Linked DNA regions of Homo sapiens: region 1 is linked to region 2. Evidence: fine-mapped expression QTL. Tissue or cell type: whole blood. Region 2 holds a variant in brackets; the other region holds the start of a gene. All regions are shown on one strand. Distances are between the middles of the regions.

Region 1 (9,928 bases), 39 kb before region 2:
GCCTCCCAAAGTGCTGGGATTACAGGCGTGAGCCACCGTGCCCAGAATTTTTTTTTTTTTTGTGAGATGGAGTCTTCCTCTGTCGCCCAGGCTGGAGTGCAGTGGCACAATCTCAGCTCACTGCAACCTCCATTTCTCTGGTTCAAGCAATTCCCCTGCTTCAGCCTCCCGAGTCGCTGGATTACAGGTTCACGCCACCACGCCCGGCTAATTTTTTTGTATTTTTAGTAGAGATGGGGTTTCACTATGTTGGCCAGACTGGTCTCCAACTCCTGACCTTGTGATCTGCCCGCCTTGGCCTCCCAAAGTGCTGGGATTATAGGTGTGAGCCACTGCGCCCGGCCTGCTCCATGGTTTGTTTTGTTTTGTTTTGTTATTTTTTATTTATTATTTTTTTGAGACAGGGTTTCGCTCTGTTGCCCAGGCTGGAGTTCAGTGGCACAATATCAGTTCACTGCAACCTCTGCCTCCCAAGTTCAAGTGATTCTCCTGCCTCAGCCTGCCAAGTAGCTGGGATTACAGGCGCACACCACCATGCCCAGCCAATTTTTGTATTTTTAGTAAAGATGGGGTTTTGCCATGTTAGCCAGGCTGGTCTCGAACTCCTGACATCAAGTGATCCGCTCGCCTCGGCCTCCCAAAGTGCTGGGATCACAGGTGTGAGCCACTGCACCCGGCCCTGCTCCATGTATTTTTAAGCTTTCTAATTAGATGCATTTAATCAGGAAAATGTTCTGCCCCCTATTTCACTATGAAATGACCAGAATCGCTGGCAAAATTCTTGGCTCTGAAATCTACTTTAGTATTTGTTTTCTTCTTTTTCTTCAGACCCGCCTCCTGGAAATTGACTTTAGTGTTTATATGCCTATTCCAGCTGCCTTTCGACAGCGCTAGGGAGGTGCGCACTTTCCATCCTTTCTCTTTAAAATGAGTTTCTTACGGGCACTCCAAGGTCTGACTTACAGAGTCTCACTCTGTCGCCCAGGCTGGAGTGCAGAGCTGGGACCTCAGCTCACTGCAAGGTCCGCCTCCCAGGTTCGCGCCATTCTCCTGCCTCAGCCTCCCGAGTACCTGGGACTACAGGTGCCCGCCCCCACGCCTGGCTAATTTTTTGTATTTTTCAGTAGAGACGGGGTTTCACCGTGTTAGCCAGGATGGTCTTGATCTCCTGACCTTGTGATCCGCCCGCCTCGGCCTCCCAGAGTGCTGGGATTACAGGCGTGAGCCACCGCGCCCGGCCTCCAAGTTCTGACTTTTTATCCATTCTGGTCTCTGCTTTCTCATTGACGTGTTTAAACCTTTTACATCTCATGTGATTTTTTTTTATTGGATTTAAATCTACTATCTTGCTATTTATTCTCTATTTGTCCCGTGTGCTCTTTGTTCTATTTTTCTTTTTTCTGCCTCTTGCATTTTTAATTTTTGTATCATTTATTTATTTACTTTAGAGGTGAGGTCTGTCATTCAGGCTGGTGTGCAGTGGCACAATCATATCTCACTTTCTGCCCCTTTGAGAGTCTGATTCCATTTTCTCTCCTTTATTGATTTATTAGCCATCACCCTTTGTTGCTGTATTGCAGTGGTTGTGGTAAGGCTCGTAATAAATAGCTTTAACCCGTCCAGTCTCTTCATTCTTCTGTGGAGACCCCGACTTCTATCCAGTCTCACCTTCCTTTTGTCTGAAGGACTTCTGGAACATGTCTTGTACTGCAAGTCTGCTAGTGATGGATTATTTTAGCTTTTGTAAGTGCAAAAAAGTCTTTATTTTGCCTTTGTTTTTGAAAAATATCTTTGCTGGGCATAGAACTACAGTTATTCCTCAGTATCCCTGGGGGATTGGTTCCAGTACCTGCCATGGGTACCAAAATCCACGAATGTTCAAGTCCCTTATGCAAAATGTCATAGTGTTTCCATATAACCTATGCACATTCTTCCATACACTTTAAATCATCTGTAGCGGCGAGCGTGATGACTCACACCTGTAATCTCTGTAATTTGGTAGGCTGAGGTGGGAGGATCACTTGAGGCCAGGAGTTCAAGACCAGCCTGGGCAACATAGTAAGATACCATCTCTACAAAAAATAAAATAAAATAAAAATTAGCAGGGCATGGTGGTGTGTGCCTGTGGTCCCAGCTACTCGGCAGAGTCATGCAGGAGGATTGGTTGAGCTCAGGAGGTCGAGGCTGCAGTGAGCTATAACCGTATTATCCTACTCCAGCCTGGGAGACAGAGCGAGACCCTGTTTCTAAAATATATACATATCGAGATTACTTATAATACCTCATGCGATGTACATGCTAAATGAATACTTGTTATACCATATTGTTTAAGGAATAATGACAAGGAAGAGCAGTCTGTGCATTTCGGTGCAAGTAATTTTTTTCTGAGTATTTTTGATCCTTGGTTGAATCCACAGACGCAGAGCCTGTGAATACAGACGCCTGACACTATCAGTCAGCTTCTCCCTTGCCCTCAGCACTTCAAAGGTGTGATTCCACTCTGTTCTGACTTGCATTATTCCTGAAGAAATGTCTGCAATCACTGCAATCTTTTCATTTATTTTTTTAGAAGGAGTCTCTCGCTCTGTCACTAGGCTGGAGGGCAGTGGCGTGATCTTGGCTCACTGCAACCTCCACCTCCCAGGTTCAAGCGGTTCTCGTGCCTCAGCCTCCTGAGTTACCTGGGATTACAGGCCTGTGCCACCACACCCAGCTATTTTTTTTTATTTTTAGTAGAGATGGGATTTCACCATGTTTACCAGGATGGACTCGATCTCCTGACCTTGTGATCCGCCCGCCTCAGCCTCCCAAAGTGCTGGGATTACAGGCGTGAGCCACCGCGCCTGGCCTGTAATCATTCTTATCTTTGTTCCTCTGTACACAATGTCTTGTGTGTGTGTGTGTGTGTGTGTACAGCTGCTTTTAAGATTTTTCACTGATTTAAAGCAATTTGAGGCCAGGCACGGTGGCTTATGCCTGTAATCCCAGCATTCGGGAGACCAAGGTGGGCAGATCACCTGAAGTCAGGAGTTCAAGACCAGCCTGACCAACATGGCAAAATCCCGTCTCTACTAAAAATACAAAAAATTGGCCAGGCATGGTGGCACATGCCTATAATCCCAGCTATTCAGGAGGCTGAGGCAGGAGAATCACTTGAATCCAGGAGGCAGAGGTTGTGCTGAGTCAAGATCGTGCCATTGCACTCCAGCCTGGGAGACAGAGCAAGACTCCATCTCAAAAAATAAAAAAATAAATAAATAAAGCAATTTGCTTTCCATCTTGGTGTAGTTTCCTTCATGTTTCTTGAGTTTGAGGTATGTTAAACTTCTTGGGTCTGTAGGTTTGTAGTTTTAAAAAAACTTTTCAATCATTATTTTTTTTTGTTGTTTTGTTTTTGTTTTTTGAGACAGCGTCTTGCTCTGTCTCCCAGGCTGGAGTGCAGTGGTGCAATCTCTACTCACTGAAACCTCCACCTCCCGGGTTCCAGCGATTCTTCTGCCTCAGCTTCCTGAGTAGCTGGGATTACAGGCACATGCCACCACACCTGGCTAATTTTTTATATTTTTAGTAGACACGAGATTTCATCATGTTGGCCAAGCTGATCTCGAACTCCTGACCTCAAGGGATCTGCCCGCCTCGGCCTCCCAAAGTGCTGGGATTACAGGCGTGAGCCACCTCACCTGGCAATCATTACTTCTTAAAATGTCTTTCTCCCCATCCTTCCACCCCCAGGGGACTTCAAATCACACTGCTTGAAGCGGCCCCACAGCTCACTGATGCTCTGCTCACTCTCTTAGCCTTCCCTCTCTGTTTTACGTTAGACGACTTCTGTTGCCATGTCCTTGAGAGTTTTAAGTCCTTGCTTTCCTCCTTGGTAGTGTTTTCTGAAACCTGATGTTTTGCCCAAAACTGATATATTATTTTCATGTATACATGTGTGAGTTTAGATTTGCATGGCTGAGCTTTCATAGCCCATCGTTGAATCATTGTAATATATTGGTCTGTGTCTAAACTGTGATGAAATGAGCGAAAGATTCAGACCCGGCTTAGAAGACGATGTGCAAGTCACAGGCCTTTAAGTGTCCTAATGCCTAGACAGAGAACAGACAACCACTGAGTGAGATGGGAATGTGGGTGAGAGGTTAAGTACAGGAATTATTTCAAGATTGCAAAAATAAGTCTCTTAAAGACCACATATTGCATAGTTCCCTTAACAGGGAAGGCCCAGCCTAGGCAAACTCCTGGACACAGAAGATTAGTGGCTGCAGGCGGGGGAGGGGCAGTGTGCTGACTGCTACAGGAGACCGGTGGTGAATGCAGCGGTGGAGGCGGGCCCAGCGCTGGGAATGTACCACCACCGTCGCGCTGTGCATTTTTTTTTTTTTTTTGAGATGAAGTCTGGCTCTGTTGCCCAGGCTGGAGTGCAGTGGCAAGATCTCGACTCACTGCAACCTCCGCCTCCCGGGTTCAAGCGATTCTCCTGCCTCAGCCTCCCGAGTAGCTGGGATTACAGGCACGCACTACCACGTCCAGCTAATTTTTGTATTTTTAGTAGAGACGGGGTTTCACCATGTTGGCCAGGCTGGTCTCGATCTCCTGACCTCCTGATCCACCTGCCTCGGCCTCCCAAAGTACTGGGATTACAGGCATGAGCCACAGAACCCGGCCATGCGCTGCGCATTTTACGCGGATGAAGCGGATGGCCTGGGCACTGTGGACTGTGGGTCCAGGGAGCTGTTTTGACAACGTCTTCATTCCTGCCGCTGTAATGGGGCGCACGTGCACGCACGGACGTGGCTTCTCCCCAGGGTGTCACCGCGTAGGTATCACGCTGATTCCAGCGCAGCCGCCCTCGCCGGGCCTCAGCGGGGAGTGGCCGGGCAGCAGGGGCGTGGCTGGGAACCGGGCGTGGCCTGAGCTGGGGGCGTGGCCTAGCTGTGGGGGCGTGGCTGGGCCGTGGGGGCGGGCCCTCCGCGCAAGCATCCGCCGACGTGGGGCGGGGCCGGGCGTGCGGGCGGTTGGGCGGGGGCGGGGCCGGCGGCGGCGGGTAACGGAGGGGGCGGGGCTGGCGCAGGGGTGGGGTTGCCGTTGCGGGGCGGGGCGGCGCAGGCGCTGTGCGCGGCACTCAGCGGTTTTCCCTCCCCCAACGGCGCGCCGGCTGTGGCCGGCGCAGAGTAGTGCTCGGGCCGGGGGTCGCCTCCCGCCTCCCGCCTCCCGCCTCCCGCCGCCCGCCGCCCGCGTCGCCCTCGCCGCCGTTGGGCCGCGCCGCGCCGCCATGTCGGGCCCCGGACCGCGGGAGCCGCCGCCGGAGGCAGGCGCGGCAGGCGGCGAGGCGGCCGTCGAGGGCGCGGGCGGCGGGGACGCGGCGCTGGGCGAGCCGGGGCTGAGCTTCACGACCACCGACCTGAGCCTGGTGGAGATGACGGAGGTGGAGTACACGCAGCTGCAGCACATCCTCTGCTCGCACATGGAGGCGGCGGCTGACGGCGAGCTCGAGACGCGCCTCAACTCGGCGCTGCTGGCGGCGGCGGGCCCGGGCGCAGGCGCGGGCGGCTTCGCGGCGGGCGGTCAGGGGGGCGCGGCGCCCGTGTACCCCGTGCTGTGCCCGTCCGCGCTGGCGGCCGACGCGCCCTGCCTGGGCCACATCGACTTCCAGGAGCTGCGCATGATGCTGCTAAGCGAGGCGGGCGCGGCGGAGAAGACGTCGGGCGGCGGGGACGGAGCGAGGGCCCGGGCCGACGGCGCCGCCAAGGAGGGCGCGGGCGCGGCTGCGGCTGCGGCTGGACCCGACGGCGCGCCCGAGGCCCGGGCCAAGCCGGCCGTGCGCGTCCGCCTGGAGGACCGCTTCAACAGCATCCCCGCCGAGCCGCCGCCCGCGCCGCGCGGCCCCGAGCCCCCCGAGCCGGGCGGGGCGCTCAACAAGTGCGTGCCCGGCGGCCGGGGGCTGGCGGGGCCCGGGTGGAGGCCGAGGCCGGGGCCGGGGCCGGGGCGGAGGCAAAGGGGGCCCTCGCTGTGCACGCCCCCAGCCTGCCCTCCCGGCGGCACAGGGCGCGGACCTCACCGGGTCTGGGGCCGCCCCGAAAGGCTGTGTGCGCTGTGCGGGCCCCGGGGAGCAGGTACTTCCAGAAACTAAACACCCCCTCCCTCAGTGGCCCCGCCTGGAGTGGGGCCGAGCGCGCAGAATTCCTGGGAACCATGTGCTCCGGGTGGCACTCTTGGATGTCAGGGAAGCCTAGGAAGGCCCGACGGGGGTTTGCAGGCTTTGAGCTCTAAAATGAGGCTCCAGCCTGCAGCCGCCCCCTTGGCGACCCTCAGGGATGGCTGTGGAAGGGGCTGCGTCCGCAGTTTTCTGCTCATCCCAGCCTGTAGTTGCCCATCGTGGTCACACTGGAGGATGGCAAAAGTGAGATTGGTGTCAGGATGTGATGAGAGCAGGGAGGTGGCGCAGTTTTGCTTTTCCTCCATAGGAAGAGGAGGACTTCCACAGCAGCGATAGTTGCTAATTGTTGTGTAGAGATTTCCAGGATGAGAGTTGGGTTGCTGTCTGGAAAAACTAGCCAGAGCCATGGGAGTGGGATGGTGGATGCTTGTCTGCCACGTATTGCTGACACTTCTGGGCTTTCTTTTGTCTTGGCAGTTTGGTAACTCTCATTCGACATCCATCTGAACTAATGAATGTTCCTCTTCAGCAACAAAACAAATGTACAGCATTAGTGAAAAATAAAACTGCGGCTACAACTACTGCTTTGCAATTTACATACCCACTGTTTACTACAAATGCTTGCTCTACTAGTGGAAATTCTAATCTTTCACAGACACAGGTAGGGAACATGATTTGTGAAGCTTTGCTCTTTTGTATTAAATGGGTAAATTTTAACTTATTTTGGTTAGGTCCCAAGTACTTTTTTTTCCCTTCAGTGAGCTTAATAACCTTTTAAGCCGGGCGCCAAGGCCGACACCTGTAATCCCAGCACTTTGGGAGGCCGAGGTGGGTGGGTCATTTGAGTTCAGGAGTTCAAGACTAGCCTGGCCAACATGGTGAAACCCCGTACGAAAATTAACCAGGTGGTAGTGGCGGACACCTGTAATCCCAGCTGCTCAGGAGGCTGAGGCGGGAGAATCGCTTGAGCCTGGGAGGTGGAGGTTGTGGTGGGCTGACATCGCGACCCTGCACTCCAGTCTGGGCGACAGAGTGAGAGCCTGTCTCAAAAAAAAAAACAAAAAAACAAAAACAAAAAAATACCTGTGAAAGTTGAGTGTTTATGTGGTATGCGAATATTTTTAAATCTTCAGTGCAACTAAAGTTCTTCAAATTACGTGTTAGTAGTTTTGATGTTTGTTAAGTGCATTTCATTTGTGCAGTAAAGAGGAGAGTAAGCCACATATTGATAAAATTCCTGTTGCTTCATTTTTTTCCAGAGTTCTAGTAACTCATGTTCTGTACTTGAAGCTGCCAAGCACCAGGATATTGGATTGCCTAGAGCATTTTCTTTCTGTTATCAGCAAGAAATTGAATCCACTAAACAGACGTTAGGTAGTAGAAACAAAGTTTTGCCTGAGCAAGTTTGGATTAAAGTGGGAGGTAAGCGATGAAGCAGCAGGTAGTGGGAGCTTTCTTCTGACTGAGCCCTGTGGCTGATGGCATTTTGGCCTTGGGGGGCAGGGGAGACAGATGGTTTGTACACATGTGAAACAGTCTTGGAGGTGTCTGTGTATCTCAGGGGTCTGTCCACCCGCTTCCCTGTCTTTTCGCTTTAAACATTATTCTGATTCTCAAACATAATTAATCTTGGTGTGAGAACGTTGCGTTTGAGGGCTTTTTCTTAACAGTAAAGTGATAGACTTACATAAATTTTCAGTTATTTTCAAGTTACTGAAAGTACTTTATAGTTTTTTATTTTCCTTATGTTATACTCGATGAGTGAGGCAGTCATCTAACATCTGCCGAAAGCCTTTGGATAGGTGGCTGCTAATAGGAGGACCCTATTAGGGCTGCCAGGGAGAGGCTGTAAGGTGATTCGGAAAGTTTGGAAATAAAGTCACTGCTGAAGGCACTGCTGCGCTAACCTGCATAGTCCCTTCCTCCCTGGGAAACACCTGCGTAGCCCCTTCCTCCCTGGGAAACACCTGCGTAGCCCCTTCCTCCCTGGGAAACACCTGCGTAGCCCCTTCCTCCCTGGGAAACACCTGCGTAGCCCCTTCCTCCCTGGGAAACACCTGCGTAGCCCCTTCCTCCCTGGGAAACACCTGCGTAGCCCCTTCCTCCCTGGGAAACACCTGCATAGCCCCTTCCTCCCTGGGAAACACCTGCGTAGCCCCTTCCTCCCTGGGAAACTGATTTGTGAAGTGACCCGAAAAAAGAACACTCCTTACACTTAGCTTTCCAAGAGTTGGTGAAGACAAGATGGGGAGGAAGAGCTACCGCCTTCTCCCATGTCAGTCCTTCCTTTTCCTCCCTATAAAATTTTATGCCAAAGTATATGTTCACATTTGTAAGATACAAAGATGAGTATTAAAGCAGCCTCTGTGCCGACTACTCAGGTTAAGGAATAAAATATCACCAAAACGACCGAATTCCTCTCTCTCCTGCTGAAAGCTTCATCATCCTTCTGAAATGGGTGCTTTGTGTGGCATACGCGTGCACATGAGCACGCCTGCCAGTCACGTGCCTGTGGTCCTTTGATGGATACAGTTCCACTGACGCACACGTGGCATAGCCTGTCACGCAGCAGAAAAGCTCGGACGCTACTTCTTCCTGCTTTGGGGAGGAGAGCCACTTCTGCGGCGAGGGCACACACACACGCTGCTGCAGTTTTGTTCTGAGCATTGCAGTAAAAATACTGTCATATTAGAATAATTGTTTTTTTTTCTTGTTCTTAGAATAATTGTATATAAAGAAAATATTTTTGGGAGGAAATATGTCCAGGTGGTTTGTTGTTGTTGTTTTTTTTTTTCCATTCTGACCTTTAGAAAAAGTAAACAACTTCTTGTTTTCTGTATTCATAGATAACACCTGTTAATTAAAAAGAGGGGCTTTGGATGAGGTCATATTGGTTGCATAGCACTTGGAAAACGTATTTAGTGTGATGATTGATTCTTGTTCAGTTTCGTTGTATAAAATAGGCTTGGGCTTCATGGTCCCTGCTGATGCTGAAAAACTGCATTAGTACATCTCTTTGTGTTTCGGTTCTCTGTGCTGCTTACCCAATAATGTTTATATCTTGGATTGAAAAGGCCAAAACTGTATTCAGCATTAATTGAGATAAGAATACAAAATTAAAAACCACTTTTTTCTTCTTTCGCAAAGAAGCAGCGCTATGCAAACAAGCACTGAAGAGGAATCGGAGTAGAATGCGTCAGTTGGACACAAATGTAGAGCGAAGAGCCCTTGGAGAGATTCAGAATGTGGGCGAAGGTGCCACCGCCACACAAGGCGCTTGGCAGTCCTCGGAGTCCTCACAGGCAAACCTGGGGGAGCAGGCCCAGAGTGGGCCCCAGGGAGGAAGGTCTCAACGTAGGGAGAGGCATAACCGAATGGAAAGAGATAGAAGGTAATACGTGTGACTGCTTGTCAGGCTGACTCATATATGATTACCTTAGTCATACATGGTTATCACAGATGAGTGATCCTTAGCCGTTTCTGCGTTCAGAGGGAATAAAGCAGGTAGGAGCATCGTTAGCTTTCCCAGATGGATCAAGGATCCCCCAGACTATGCCCAGGCTCGCTGGCTCACTAGGAGGACTCCCGGGACTCCGCATGCAGTCACTCTCAGGCTGTGACTTACTATGGAGAAAGGATGCCAGGTGCGATCAGCAAAGGCGCGTGGGGAGAAGGCAGGAGCTGAGGTGCAAGCTTCTAAGAGCGCGCCCTGTGGAGTCAGGCAGGTTGCCCCTCATGCCCCCAGCCATGTGGTCTGAAAACGTGGGT
Region 2 (8,000 bases):
CAGGGGCGGCCCAGACACAAGCAGCCCTTCCTCTAGGGCTCCCCAGCAAGTTCCCCCAAGATGCCACCTAGTAGTCTCCAAATCCCTGCTTCCCCTCCTGCTCTGGCCTAAGCCACAACAGCCCTCACAGCAGCCTGGGACCGTGTGTGTGGGTGTCAGCGAGCAGAGTTCATCAGCCCTCGCCCGGGCACACGCGTGAATAGCCCTCACAGCAGCCTGGGACCGCGTGCGGGCATCAGTGAGCGCCGACTGTCAGCTCTCGCCCAGGCACATGCGAGAACAGGGGCCCAGAGCAAGGCCTGCGCCACAGTGGCGATGGCCAGAGCCAGGGTGCCGGCTGCTTCAGAGTGTCACTCACGGGGCCCATCTGAAGTCTGGAGGTGCAGACAACCAGGCCCCCAGCCACCTGGCCGGCCCCCACTAGGGGCTGCAGGACTTACCCGGTCCCCAGGGGGCCCGAGTGGCCCTGGCAGTCCTCGTAATCCCCGGGGGCCCTGCGAGAGAGAGGCACAGATGCAGAGGCTGGGGCTGCACCTCCACCCCGGGGAGCACCCAGGGCCAAGGCCCTCGGGGTACCCCTGGGAGCCCTGGTGTCTTCCATGAGCCCTCAGCCTCAGCTCAGGTCCCCCAGAGGGAGGGGGCACCAGCCTTGAGGTCAGCAGCCTTGGCAGAGGTGGGACCCCCAGCCAGGTCGCGCTCCTGTGCCTGGGTGTTGGCCAAACACCCCCCAGCCGGAGCTGGCCCCCTCGGGGGTAGATATGTGCAGGGCTTGATCACTCTGTGGGCTGAGTTCCCATCCCACCATCCTTACCCCTTCCTAGCCTCACCTGCAGCCCCACGCTGCCCGGGAGGCCGGCGGGCCCAGGGGGGCCAGGGTCACCCTGAAACAGAGGGGATAGGGTGGTCAGCGGCCCAGTCTGGCTCTCCTTGCACCTTTCGGTGCCTCCAGTCACCCTACTCAAGCCCAAGCAGCTGGGGGTGTTGCCCCCTTCACAGCTGGGCCTTGGAGGCTCTGTGAAGGGGACACTTGCCCACAGTTCCAGAGCAGTCCCGCGAGTCTCGGTGGCCTCGCCCTGCCGGGCCGGGGTCCGTGGTCACTGTTCCCACAAGGCCCTTCAGCCCTGTCCAGGCCCCTCCTCGTGGCCAAGCAGGGACCCCTCTGATGTGCACCTGGGGTCTCCTCATCTGATCACTCCAGCCACGCTAAAGGGCATCCCAGACCTGGTCCCCCGGCCTGCAGGTGACCATGGACAGACACCCTCCACGGACAGCGACCACAGGTGAGGGGAGGCTACAGGCTAAAGCCAGCCATCCTCACAGATGCCCCTCGCCCCGGCCACAGACACAAACCAGGGAGCTTCCACAGCGAGGCCAGGCAGGACGGGGTCTGTCCAGGGACCCTGCCTAAATCACCCAGCTCTGACCAGCCAGGCCCTGTCTGGAAGACAGGCACAGAAGGTGCCAGTGCAGGTGCACCCATGAAACGGTCCCTCCCCACCGCCGGAGCCCAGCCCCTCCCTCCCGCCGGAGCCCAGCCCCTCCCTCCCGCCGGAGCCCAGCCCCTCCCTCCCGCCGGAGCCCAGCCCCTCCCTCCCGCCGGAGCCCAGCCCCTCCCTCCCGCCGGAGCCCAGCCTCCAGTCCCCAGCTCCTCCCCAGCTGCTGTGCGGCAGCTTCACCTTCTCGCCGTCCTTGCCGACTTCCCCCTGCTCGCCTTTGTAGCCAGTGGGTCCCTGCAAGCAAATGTGGGGTCACTGCCCCACCCAGACCCCCCGACACCCCCTCCCTGGCAACACTGAAGTGAGGCCTGCAGGGTCAGTCAGCCCAGGGCCCGCCACACGGCAGCGCACAGGACCGCGGGTCTGGGCCCTCATGGGGAAACTGAGGCCTGAGAGGCGCTAGGACCCACATGAGGGCGCTCTGCGGTCAGGAGCGGGCCAGGGCTGGGCTGGGGTGGGAGCTTGAGGCTAGCTCTCCCCCGCAGTCTCTGACGCCTATGGCCAGTCCCAGCCTGGCCACATCAGCGTGTCACTGGGGTGCTGAAGGCGGGACAAGGAGGCTGGCCTAGCTTTCTTCCTGGGGCAACCCTGGAACCAGGGTCCAGCTTTCTGGACCCGCCACCTCCACAGCCCCATGGGAGCCCAGCTGCCTCCTGCCCAGCACAGGGTGGTGCTTGGGTCCCAGTCACCCGTGACTCACCTTGAACCCTGGCATTCCAGGGGGCCCTGGGGGACCTGGCGGGCAGATACTTGGGCACTGTCGGAAAACAGAGCAGTCAGACCCCTCCCAGCCAAACAGAGCAGGACGTCCGACGCAGGGGTCAGCGCCCGCGGGACCCCAGGAGGCCACTCTGCACGGTGACGGGACCCCGGGAGGCCACTCCTCATGGTGACAGGACCCCAGGAGGCCACTCCGCATCAGTGACGGGACCCCAGGAGGCCACTCCGCACAGATGATGGGACCCCAGGAGGCCACTCCACGTGGGTGACGGGGCCCCGGGAGGCCACTCCGCGCGGGTGTCGGGACACTCTGGGTGACAGGACCCCAGGAGGCCACTCCACACAGAGACGGGACCCCAGGAGGCCACTCCGCGTGGGTGACGGGGCCCCAGGAGGCCACTCCGCGCGGGTGTCGGGACACTCTGGGTGACAGGACCCCAGGAGGCCACTCCACACAGTGACGGGACCCCAGGAGGCCACTCCACACAGTGACGGGACCCCAGGAGGCCACTCCGTACAGGTGATGGCACTGGGACAGGACACAGACAGGGTCTCCTTCAGCACTGGCCAAGTGCAGCAGGGGCTGCATGGAGCAGCCGGCCCCACGGCAGACACTGGCTATCAAAGCAGCCATTCAGCACAGTCCCGGCCGGCACTGCAGGGGGCCTTGCAGCAGCCTCAGGTCGGGCCCATCCTCAGCACAGGAATGTGCTCGGCATGGGGCTTTTAGGAGGGGCACTGTGAGCCCAGGCAACAGGTCTGATGCTCAGGAAACCCAGGGCTGCTTCTAGATGATCCTACAGCTGCAATGGGCAGGCCAGGCCAAGGGTGCAGACCCGTATCTTCAGCCCCTGCCCCACTCAGCCCACGATCGGGGGCCCAACCACGCACCACATTCTGGAAGGTTCCCTAAAGCCTCCCTTCTGGGACACAGGCTGGCCAGGCACCTAGGCCCCGGGGTGGGGTGAGGAGAGAGGCTGGTAGACAGCGTCGGTGGTCAGGTCAGAGTGGGCCGAGCTTTTCCCTTCAAAACTATCAAACCTCTCTATGG[A/C]AACAAGGCGCTGACTGCCACCACGGACGGCCAAACAGAGAGGAGAGATGGATCCGTGGCCTCCGAAGCCCATTTTCTTTCCTCTTCATTTTTTTGAGACAGGCTTGAGCTTGGCTGCTCACGCTGGAGTGCAGTGGCTTGATCACAGCACCCTGCAACCACTGCCTCCTGGGCTCAAGTGATCCTCCCACCACAGCCATCCAAGTAGCTAGGACAACAGGCACGCCACCACGTCTGGCTACTTTAACAATTTTTTGTAGAGACAAAGATCTCACTATGTTGCCCAGGCTGGTCTCAAACTCCTGAGCTTAAGCGATCCTCCTGTCTGGGCCTCCCAAAGTGCTGGGATTACAGGCCTGAGCCACTGCGCCTGACCTGAGCCTGTTTTCTTTTCAGGCAAATGACAAGGCTCAAAGATCAAGATAAAGGTGGGTCCCAGACTCCAGTTCTGTCGCCATCTGTGGCCAAGGGCGCCCTCTGCGGATGACGCAGGGGAGCTGGATGGCTCTGTGACATGATTGTGATTCATTACATTTGTACAGCTCCATGCGCCTGGTGGCTTCATGAGGGACAGTGCAGGTCTAGACGGTGGTGAGGAGGGTGGGAAGGGGGAGGGGGAGGTCCCAGCCAGCCTCTCTGCCAGGTTGTGCCCGAGCTGTCTGCTCTGAGCTCCTGTCCCCAGGGAGGGCTCGGGCCCTGCCTTCTTGCCAGTATGGACAAGCCCCTCTCCAGGCCAGAACCCCTCCCCCCAAGGTAGGCACCCCCCAGCACCCTTAACAAATGGCTTCAAGTGCCTACCTGAAGGTCAGTAGCGCCTTCAGGGAGGACTCCTGGGTGTCCCTAAGACAAAAAGAGACAGCTGACATTCTCCCGCCCTCCCCAGCCACCTGCAGCCACCCAACCCACCCACCCACTCTCTGACGGACCACAACCTTCCCCATCCACCAGGGGACTTGGAGACCCTTCATCCTGTCCCCCAAGTGGCCAGTGCTGGGAGCTGCTGGCCCACCCACAGGGCATGTGACAACGACAGAATCCACCTGTCCTTGGGGCAGGATGGCCATGGGGACCTGAGTCCTGACCATCCCCAAGTTGGCTGGCCTAGCCACAGCCACTGCCCCCACCATTGACTGTTCCTGGGAGTGGCCAAGTTAGGGTTAGGAGATCTCGGAGGGGCATGGAGCCTGGGGAGGGGGAATGGGGAGGGTCCAACCCAGTGTCCTAGTCCATGCCCAGCACTTCTTAGAGCCTCTGCCCAGTACTTACAGGGGGTCCGGGAGGTCCTGGGGGACCAGGGAGGCCGGGGAGTCCAGAAGGTCCCTGGGGAGGGGGTATGACTTAGACAGAGTGGGACCAGCCCCCACCTGAGTGAGGTGCCCGGCTTCTCCCAGGGAGGTGGACACGCCCAGCTCCCACCAGCCCCCACTCCCACGGACTGTGCTGGTGTCTGCGTCCTGAGGTCGGGTCTGGATCATTGGCCAGGGCTTCTACCAACACCCACCAAGGTGGGGTTGGGGGAGAAAGGGAAAAGGGAGAGGGGAAGGGAGCCCCTGGCTGTTGAGTCTGGGGGTGGAGGCCACAGGTGAGCACACTCTGAGGGGCTCTGGGACAGCCACTCACCGGGGGGCCGCGGAGGCCGATCCCACCTGGGGGGCCGCTCACTCCTGCCTCTCCCTGGAGGGAAGTAAAGAGAGGTGGGGAGGTCTGCACCCGGAAGCCCCGAGGATCCCCACCCAGGGTTGGTGTGCCGCCTCCGAAGGGAGAGGGGCTCCAAGTATGGGGTGGTCAGATGGCTGCCCCTGAGAAGCCCCACCCCCAGGCACGGTTTGGGACATCCCAGCCTGGCAGGCTCTCGGGACTTGCGTGCTTGCTCAGGGCCCCAAGGGTTGTCAGTACTCACGGGGGGTCCAGGGAGGCCTTTGCCCTGCAAAGCCAAACATGGGGTCAGAGCCTGCCAGGCACAAGAAGGGCTGCGCCTCACCCCTCCCTAAGATGGCTCAGGTGGGTCCTGGGGAAAGGGCGGTTCCAGGGATGGGTGTCTGGTCCCAGCCCAGAGAGGGCACCAGGACCCCATCCAGGCACCAGCCTCCGGAGAGGCTGCAGATGAGAGGGCCAGGGATGGTCCCTGGGATTCCTGGAGGCCACCCCATTTAGACCAGACTCTCCAGCTCCCCAAACTCCCATGGAGAGGAGAGGACCACACTCCATACTCACCCCCAGCCCGGGCGGCCCCGGGGGTCCCAGACTTCCCTGTGGGAGGAAAGCAGGCGTCTAGGTTGGGCTGGGCCTCTATTTGCAAACCCAATCCCCTCCCTCTGAAGTGTGACGTCACAACTCCAACTCCCAGGACAACAGGGTCCAAGTCCCCACTTCACAGAGGGGCAGGGCCTCTGAGCCCTCTTGACCTGGAGGGTCTTTGCCGTCCTGGGGAGCTGCTGGAGACAGATGGCACCAGAGTCCCAGCGCTCGCTGCAAGAAGGTGCAACCTGAGGCAGGGCTGAGAGGCACCGAAGTGACCCGGGGTGCCTGTCTCCACCAGGAAGCCCTCCCGATAACCCACCCACGGAGCCTGCTGAGTCCTCAGCCCCCGCCCACGTCAGCGAGCCCCAGAGCCTTGGGCAGCCAGGCCCTGTCTGCCCTCCACACCCTCTGGGCCCTGTCTGGCCCCTGCTGCCTGAAATGCCTCATTCCCTGGACGGCACGCACGGGCCCTGTGCTGAGGCTGGAGGCCCCTCCTGAAAGCCTGGGGACCAGCCCACCCCACACCCCTGGGCACCACGGACTCGGCTGCCAGCAGCTACTGTTTCCCTCCTGTTTTCAGCTCAGAATCCGCCTCATGCCTGACGAGCTCCCAAGGGTCCCAAGGGCAGGGCTGTGTCCTCGTGTCCCCAGCCCAGCCTTCCTGCCCTCTGTGATGCTTTGCGCCTGGGGCCAGTGGCACCCGGTTGGCTGACAGCCACGTCTTATGAAGCCAAAGAGAGAATGCTGGCTTCGGGTTTGTACTCAGAAGCCACAAGGGGAGAAAGGCACCCTTGGGTGGTGGTGCCGCTCCGTCAGGGTAAAGGATTCAGTGTCCAACAGGCAGGCACAGGGGACTCTGCAGGCTGCGTGCCCGGGGGTCCCTGGTGGTGGTCTGCCCAGGGCCCTGGGGGCTTCAGGGACATTCTGAGGAGGCACCTGGGGTGGGTTCCCCCAAACCATCCCCCTTCTCCCTGCCATGGTCTGGATACCAGGACAACTCTGACCATACGTGGAGGTGAGGCAGGGAGGCAGGCACAGGGGACTGGCCACTTGGCACCCTGCCCTTCTGCCCCTCCACCCCAGGCACGGGCAGGGCAGCTGTCCTTGGAACTACCAGCTCCTTGGCCTTGTGGACACAGAGCAGCCAGAGGTGGCCAGGGGACCTCACCTCTGAACCCAAGCCACTGGGTTCGGCGCAGGCACTTACCCGTTCCCCAGGGGCACCCTTGGGTCCAGGGGGTCCATCTCGTCCAGTCAGACCCTGGGGAGAGGCAGAGGGCGAGCTCGAGGGGCCACATGGGAAGCACATGCCACCCCCCAGGCAAAAATGGAAGCACGGACCCTTCCCTTGGTGAGTCCAGAGAGGCATAGAAGACCCTTAGGGTGGCAGCCTCCTCTCTTGGCCCTGTCCACTGTCTGCCTGCTGTAGCCAGAGGCTCTGGGAGGAGGGAGGGGGCAGCCAGCGGGAAGCCAGCAACGGAGGCACCTGCTGTAGTCAGGCCTCGGGGACCAACCCAGCAGGACTGGACAGCTCACTTCTCAGGCCCGGCTTCCTCCGAACAAAACTCCGTGGCCCTGGGGCCAGGCCTGGAGCCCAAGATGACTAAGTGAGGCCAGCAGTGGGCAGAAGGTCCTGACAATGGGCACTCATTCCTGGACAAGCAAGGAGGGCTGGCGGGACTTCCGACTCCACTGGGCTGGCTCTGTCCCCTGCCAGATGCTGGTGGCGTCTGGGATGAAGGCCAAAGGACCCCTGTTGGGGACTTCTGGAGACTTCTCTCAGGACTGGGCTTCCCGCCTGAGCAGGCCCAGCTGGACAACAGCAATTAGGGCCGGACTCCTCCAGGGACCCGGAGCGGGGAGTGGGGCATGGCGGGGAGGGGCAGGCGCACTCACATCCACACCCGGCAGTCCCGGCAGCCCAGCCTCTCCTGGTTTCCCCGGCTTTCCTGGGGCCCCCTTTGGTCCCTGTGCAGGAGGAAAGGGCAGAGATGTGAAGGCGGGGTCTGGCCTGGAGCCCAGGCCTTCAGCAATGAAGCAAAATGCTTTCCACTTCCCCCCAGCCCAACCATACGGGATGGGCCCCTCTCCTGGGTCCCCCCTACTGTCTGGCAGACCCGGCTCAGCTGGGGCACGTGTGTCCTGCTTGCCCACACCTTGCTGGCCCAGGAAGGCTGCCCGCCCCATCCCTCAGTGGCATCTGTAAGACCTTCGTCTGGTCACCTCGGCCTCCCTGGCTAAGGGCCAGCAGGCATCTCTGTCGGACCCCCAGTGGGCCCAGACAGGGCTCTGAGCCCCAGGACCCTCAACCCCTGGAACTGAAGAAGGTGGGAGGGCTCCAGGTGACCTCAGGCCTGGGGGACCTGAAGGGCTGTACCAGCCCCGGTCCCGGCCTGCCTGGCGCTGGTCCAAAGAAAGCTTCAAAGCCAGGCCCTGCCCTGAACATGCAGAGGCTGAGCCCACACACTCCCCTCCCGCCCCGCTGGCTCCAG

Evidence for each region. PIP is the estimated chance that this variant, and not a neighbour inherited with it, causes the effect.
Region 1: it holds the start of TCFL5, and the variant in region 2 is fine-mapped to the expression of TCFL5 in whole blood (INTERVAL, PIP above 0.99).

Annotation. Positions count from the first base shown.
Region 1 is chr20:62,857,018-62,866,945 of GRCh38, reverse strand. It overlaps TCFL5 (transcription factor like 5), which reads left to right and starts at 5,124. Exons shown (of 6, transcript NM_006602.4): 1 at 5,124-5,922; 2 at 6,638-6,821; 3 at 7,420-7,582; 4 at 9,308-9,551. The coding sequence starts at 5,276. LOC105372717 (a long non-coding RNA gene) reads right to left here and starts at 5,511. Exons shown (of 4, transcript XR_936989.4): 1 at 5,405-5,511. RefSeq lists silencers at 4,716-4,815, 4,866-5,055, 5,556-5,705 and an enhancer at 4,677-5,331.
Region 2 is chr20:62,818,698-62,826,697 of GRCh38, reverse strand. COL9A3 (collagen type IX alpha 3 chain) reads right to left here. Exons shown (of 32, transcript NM_001853.4): 4 at 7,405-7,476; 5 at 6,716-6,769; 6 at 5,482-5,517; 7 at 5,168-5,191; 8 at 4,888-4,941; 9 at 4,534-4,587; 10 at 4,066-4,107; 11 at 2,197-2,253; 12 at 1,677-1,730; 13 at 828-881; 14 at 441-494. Among named protein-coding and RNA genes, the nearest start is that of COL9A3, 5.6 kb to the right of the region's middle. RefSeq lists a silencer at 1,440-1,499 and enhancers at 2,088-2,775, 2,776-3,464, 7,346-8,000. The variant A/C (reference allele first, on the strand shown) is at 3,268.